Homo sapiens: one gene and its partner. The protein of the gene in region 2 purifies or fractionates together with the protein of the main gene of each other region. This does not show direct contact. Each region holds a gene or a part of one and is shown on either strand. Other genes may lie near its edges. The genes, in order: ALDOB and OR12D3.

The links.
Region 1: the proteins of OR12D3 (region 2) and ALDOB purify together in Homo sapiens (affinity purification with mass spectrometry; one large-scale study listed by BioGRID and IntAct). This does not show direct contact.

The regions. Positions count from the first base shown.
Region 1 is NC_000009.12:101,419,767-101,422,958, forward strand, and holds the end of ALDOB (fructose-bisphosphate aldolase B), read right to left. Parts: intron 2,139-3,192; coding exon 2,043-2,138; 3' UTR 794-2,042; downstream 1-793. UniProt on the Homo sapiens protein: Catalyzes the aldol cleavage of fructose 1,6-biphosphate to form two triosephosphates dihydroxyacetone phosphate and D-glyceraldehyde 3-phosphate in glycolysis as well as the reverse stereospecific aldol addition reaction in gluconeogenesis.
Region 2 is NC_000006.12:29,372,700-29,376,733, forward strand, and holds OR12D3 (olfactory receptor 12D3), read right to left. Parts: upstream 2,593-4,034; 5' UTR 2,589-2,592; coding exon 1,638-2,588; 3' UTR 724-1,637; downstream 1-723. UniProt on the Homo sapiens protein: Odorant receptor.

The DNA of each region.
Region 1 (3,192 bases), on a different chromosome or scaffold from region 2:
ATGCATTATATAAATCCTCATTCCCAGTAAAATGTAATTCAGCCTTGACCAAAATATATAAGTAACTCATCCTTGATTATAAATTCATGGTTAACTGATAAGAATCTGAGAGGTTTCTTTAGATACCTCTTAAAATATCTAAAGAATTCAGCGATGCTGAGTAGGATCTAGATAAAAACTATCTGGCAGAAAAGCTTTGTCTCACAAGGTGTTACCTACCTGCTTTTAGGACAGCTTGGCACATAGTAGGAGATGAAGTGCTTGATGATTGACTGAAATGTACAAGGAGAAATGTACAAGACTACACCACGGGTGGCAGAGATATTGAACACAGCCTGTCACCTTGCCCTGTAAGATCTCTGGCTGTGTATCCACTTTTTGAGCAAGAGACTTGAGTTCAGAAGACCTGAATTTTAATCTCTCAGCTCTGCTATAAATGTGGGATCCTCAGTAAGTAATTTTACTTCTCTGGACTTGGTTTTATCACCTGTAAAATGAAAACCGTGGGCTTAATAGATCTCTCATATAGGCTTGAGTTGCTTGTATGACTGTCTGTAGTTGTTTTTAGAAAAGTAATGACAAGTACATGGAAATAAATATTCAAATACTGTAGAGGGCAGGTAATAAGGAAATGTCATCTTTCCTGTGCCCTGACTCCCAGGTCTTTCTCCCAGGTCTTAGAGTAAGCCCCTTTGGCTAATTCTGTCTTATTCCTCTAAATAATATGTTAAGTCTCTGTTTCTTCATTTGTTAATCTACACAATACCATTTGTCTTTGTATTATTCAAGGTAAGAAATTTAGCATACTACCATCAATATTTTAATTTTAGATATATATTTTTATGATTTACATCCATTTCTTTTATTACTTAAATAGAATTAAAGCACTATTTCTTAACCCATCAGTTTTAAGTAGTATTCCTGACTCTCTTTGCTTTCTTCCACTTCTCCTCCCCCTTATATTTCCTAGCTTCTGTCAGTTAAATCATCACTTTTATATTGTCCAAAGTTATAATATTTAAATTCTCTTTTATAACTCTGGTTGTCTTAAGTGCTGTAACTATAGGTTAATTCTGAAAATTGAAAGTCAATACAGTATCATTATGTGAATATTATTTACTGCAAAACTACGAAATATGCCTGGACGTGCAGATGACAAGGTAGTCCTGTTTCACCAAACCTGGGCCACTTGAACAAGAATGCTCCAAGCATTGAAGTCACATTAATTCTCTTATTATACTCCACAAGTTGCTCAAAATCATTCTACATTTTTAGCTGGCTTCGTATTGTGAATGGCTTTAATTTTCAAATACCCTCAAACTTGAAATTTAGATTGGTAGTTCTCAAACTTGACTGTACATTGGAATTACTGAGGGAGCTTTAAGAAATCTAATAGTTAGAGGATCCCAAGTCTAGGGTTTCTGATTTAATTGAGCTGGGGTGTGGCCTGAGCATCTCAGTTTTTAAAATTTTGCGGCTTGATTCCAATGACTAGCAAGAGTTGAAGACCTTTACTGTTGAAACCCAGTCATGTCTAGTAGAGTCAAAAGTAATGAAATACACTGAGTCTTTGGACAGCAAGAGCAGAAAAGTGAAACCCGATAGCAGCTGAAGGTTTATAGAATATTTATTTCTTTTTTGGTTGCAGCTATCTCCTTCCCAACCTACCACTGCTAAGACTGTTTCATAAGATGCACTTCTCTACACTCAGCTAATGAGGTGTTTCAATCAGCAGTTGTTCTTTGGATGAGGAGCCGATATTGTTTTAAAGCCTATTATTTTCTTGGGTGGGTATTCTGGAGCATGGGGAGCTGAAAGTGTTGCAAGGAAACTGCTGTGTGAAATTTGATCAGGTCCTTGGTATTCATTTTTATGTTTCAATAACTGATTTATTTTTTCCCCCTTGTACTTAAGATTTAACATGTGTTGTATTTCCAGCAGTTCAAATCTAATTGTGTCGAATTTCCAGGATTGGAGGAAAAGTTGCTCCCTTTCAGCCCTCCTACTAGAAGCACTGGAGCTAGGCTGGCGGGCATTGGACCCTAGTAGGTATAGCAGGCTGTGAAGAGCGACTGGGTGGAAGCAGCCCCAGAAGAACCCGTGTGAACATACTGTCCTTTGGCCGCCTGGCAGTTAGCCTAGAAGACAAATATGAGAGAGGAGACTGGTTAGAGTAAATGTGACCCCACCTTGACCCTGTCTGCCTCTCATGGGAAACCAGTCAAACCTTCACTCAGATTTTCTTCTTTTTACAGCAATGTTGCTGAATATTGCTGGGGATACCATCCCCTTCTATAAAGTATCTCCCCTTTTTATCCCAGTTTTCTGAGCATTTCTTTGGTAAGCTTGAGGTTTGTGTCAGTTACTGGGGAAATCTCTGTTCAGTACCAACAATATTGCAGCAACAGTACTAGAAACTAAAGTTGAAAAATTTCTCACTAGTATAGTACACTATACCAAAAGAAAAACATGTTTATTTTAAAAACATTTCCATTTTCTACCTATATTGGTCTAGAAGAATATGTAATTTTTATTTAGTTATTGTAGTATCATTTGCTTTCCTGTATACATTCCAGTTAAAGATAAATTCAGAATTATGAAACTTACGACAATATTTGAATGTCACTCAGTGGTACCACTTCTTCCAGTCAGTGTTGCTATTGTCTGTTCTCTCCAGGACTTATTTCTACATTTTACATCAATGGTTCTCCAACTGTGTTTCATGGTCTACCAGCATCCCTTAGGAACATGTTAAAAATAGAAATTCCCTGGCCTTACCCCTGACCTACTGAATTAGAAACTCAGTGGGTGAGACCCATAATCTGCATTTTTAACAAGCGCTTCAAGTGGGGGTAGGGGAAATGAAAAGAGGTTGGTAATGGGTACAAAAATACAGTTAGGCAGAAGGAATAAGTTCTAGTGTTTGATACAACAGTAAGATGACTATAGTTAACAATGATTTATTACATATTTTAAAATAGCTGGAAGAGAAGATTTGGAATGTTCCAAACCCAAAGAAATAATAAATATTTGGAGTGAATACCCTAATTATCCTGATTTGATCATTATACATTATATGCATATATAAAAAATCACAGATACCCCACAGATCTATACAATTATTGTGTGTAAATATAAAAGATCATGACAACAAAACCAAAATCACCTTCAGGTGATTCAGATCCACACTGG
Region 2 (4,034 bases):
ACAGTTATTACAAAGGAATAAAGATAAGAATGGCAGCATGCATCCCACCAGAAATTATGTGAGACAGGTAATGGAGCAACAGCTTTAAAGCACATAAACAAAAGTCTGGCAATTTAAAATTTTATATACAGAGAAAACATCTCTTAAAAATAAGGGCAAAGTACTTTTTCATGCCAACAAAAGCTGAAGTAAATTATTACCAGCAGAACTTTACTACAAGAAATAGTTAAGGAAAGTCTTTAGACAACAACAACAAAAAAATGATACGAGATGAAAATCAGTGTCTCCATGAAGGGACCAAAAGTGCCAGAAATTATAAATATGTGTTTAAGTGTAAAAGACATTTTTATTATTTTTAATTACCTTAAAAATAATAGAATTTTTCAAAAAAAACAGAATTGCAGTATCTTGGATACTAATAACATAAGTAAAAGTAAAATGTGTGACATTAAAATCACAAAGCATGAGCAGGGAGATGGAAGTACAGTATGGCATGACTCTAGCAATACATCTTAAATGGTGTAATATTATGTGAAGAAATATTTTGTGAATTTAAAATGTACATTGTAAACCCCAGAGTAACCACAAAAATATAAAATAAAAAGGTATAAATAAAAGGACAATAGTGAAAATATAATGAAATCATAAAAATATTCCCATAAAAAACAGTAAATGAAAGAAGAAGCAATAACGGACAAATAGGACAAATGAAAGGCAAACAGTTGGAGGACAAATTTAAATTTAATTCTATCAAAAATTTAGTTGGAGGATAAATTTAAATTTAATTCTATCAAAAATTTATCAAATTTAAATTGTGCAAACACTCCAACTGAAACAAAGAGCTTGTCACATTGGCTTAATGGGTATGAAAATGCAGTTAGATAGAATGAAGAACTTCTAGTATTCAACAGTAAACTAATGCAGGGACAGTAATGTAGGTTTAGCTTGATTGTGGTAGTCTCTTCACAATGTATACATATACTAAAGCATCATGTTGTGAAGCCTAAATATATGCAATTTTTATTTGTTAATTATACTTCAATAAGCTGGGGAAAAACAAGATATTTTCAATGGCTAGAAAAATCTCTCCCTAAAATTAAATACCCATTAAAAATTCTCTTCAAGAATTAAGATTAACAAAAATGATATTCTAGATAAAAACTGTTGTGAGAAAAATTATCATCAGTACTTTCCTGCTGAAGGAAACACAAAAGGAAAAAAAATAGGCAAAAATAAAGATTATCTCATATGGAATTTCAGTAAGATACTTCTATTACTTGGAAAATTCCAAAGGTTTTTGTCCTAGGAGAAATGCCACATTCTTTTTTACACAGCAGATTCCTACTCTAACCCTCCCCATACTTCCTACCTCCTTAGTTCTCCTTGCCACCGAATTATCCTGACATATGTACTTACGCGTTTGGTTATTTGGGGCCTCCATCACATTAAACTTTATGTTTGATGACATTATGGAATTTGTTTTGCTTGCTCCTGTGTTTCTTGAACCTACTACACTGCCTAATATAATATGTGCTCAAAATTTTTGAAAGAAAAATATAAACCAGGTAAACAAATCATTTCTTACAGTGAAGTGATGGAAATCAGTCTTAATAGAAATCAGATATCCCTCATTAGTCCTAGTGGTGTTGCTGCCAGTCTTTAAACAACTTCCTACCAAAGATTTTCTTCAGAGCCATCATCACTTCTTTGTTCCTAAGGGTGTAGATTAGTGGATTCAGTACAGGGGTGACGGCGCTATACATGATGGCCATTATCCGGTCCTGAATCATGGAGGTGGCTGAAGCAGGACGAATATATGTGAAGCCCACAGGTCCATAGAAAAGACATACCACCATAAAATGGGAGGCACAAGTGGACAGAGCCTTGTGGAGTATTCTGCAGGACCTGTTCTTAAACAGAAGGAAGCCAATTACATAGAAGCAGGAGAGAAGAGTCAGAAAGAAAGCTCCCATGGATATGCTGCCTGTGACAATGGAAAGAAGCCATTGATTGAGTAATGTGTCACTACAGGCCAATTCTAAGAGCGGCTTGACATCGTAGAAGAAGTGATTGAGTTTCTGAGAGCCACAAAAACTCAGGTGTGCAGTCATGACAGAATGCATCAGAGCGTAAAAGAAGCTGATGAGCCAGGCCGCAGCTGCCAACAGAATACACACCTGGGGGTTCATGATGACAGTGTAGCGAAGAGGATTGCAGATGGCAACAAAACGGTCAAAGGCCATGATAGCCAGTAAAATGGCCTCTGTGCTTCCCAAAAAGTGGAAGAAGTGTAGCTGGGTGATACAGCCTAGAAAAGATATAGCCCTGCGACTGCACACGAGGTTTACGAGCAGCTTGGGCAGTGTCACTGAAGAATAAGAAATATCCAGACAAGAAAGGTTTCCCAGAAAAAAATACATAGGGGAGTGGAGTTGTGGTTCCAAAACAACCATCACCAATATAGATCCATTTCCAATCAAGTTTATCAGGTAAATGATTAAGAAAATCCCAAAGAAGAAAGGCTGCAGCTCCTGAACACCAGTCAGGCCAAGTAGAAGAAACTCATTCATTGTAGTGACATTCTCCATTGCTCTGGGAAGCAAATTTAACAATAACAGAATTAATTTTTCTGAATTTTTAATTTTACACTGTGAGGATTAAATAAAGCAAGTTTACTATTTGGAGGAACCTAGGGGTGAGCAACAGTGTGAAGAATAGTTACGAACAGTAAAACTAAATTTATGTACAACAAAATTGAGGAAGACTAATATACCTGATAAATTCTGAGCTGTTAAAATGGCACTAGACTAATAAAAGCATTATATTATGAACAAATCAGATATAGATAAAGGGCATTTGTTTTCAAAACTAGGAAGTGCAAGATTTGATGGACATAATCATAACCTCATGTATGGCATTAGAATTATGTATTACAAAAATTTTAAACATACAAACAGGGAATAGTTTTTCAACTTATGATTCTAGGTTCTGGCAAAAATTCAGATGTAGCTCAGTGGGGATTTCATCACTTCTTCTAAGATACATAAAAGCCACAAGAGAGTAACACATGTCTTCTGACAACCCAAACTTTCAGTGAAAGTAAGAAACATAAACACCCACAAACCAAATGTTGTATGAGTAGAGGAGAAAAAAACAGCAAAATTAGCATCATTAGTCACAAGACTGTGTCATAGCAATGAGGCAGTGGATGTAGTTGGGAAAAACTTGAAATAGTTAGAGGTCCCATTAGTAGAAGAACTTCGAAAACACCCCCAATTTTTCAATCCAAAAGGGGAGTACCTCCCAGGGAGTGAGAATTTCTGTGGGGCAGGGGATAGAAAAAGGCACAGTCTAAGCACTGAAGGTGATGGAGAGAAGAGGTATAGTAAATATATGAAGAACAAAGGAAGCTTGTCATTTGTAAGTAATTAATAATAATAATAATAATAACAATAATAATAATCACCACCTTATCAACAGAAGAGGGAGCCCTTGCACTGAGGAATTGGAAAGGCTAACTAGGATACTCCTCCCACCCATGCCTACTAAGATTCTTCTGCTAATAATTGGTCCACAATATCATAAGTTCTCCAGTGTAAGTTCTCCATAAAATAACTCTAAAAATAGACAGAAATAAAGACATAGTTAAAACCACAATCACAATGAGAAGATTTAACAAGTTTCTCTCTATACCTGACAGAAGAATCAGCCAAAAAGTCAGTAAGGATATAAACATCTGAACAACATAATTTACAAATTTGATTAACATATAAAGAACACTGAACCCAACCAAAAAATAATTCACATTATTTTCAAGTATATCTTGTACATATTTACAAAATCAAGCATGAGTTGAGTATTACCAAAAGGCTTCAAAAGGTTTCAAAAGGTTGAGCTATTCAAAGAATGTCCCTTGACCACACTGGAATTAAAAAACAATAAGAAAAATGCATCTAGAAACTCACCAATTGCTTCATATTATGTAATACACACAAATAATTCATAAAGAAAAAATTCAAATAAAATTAGAAAAA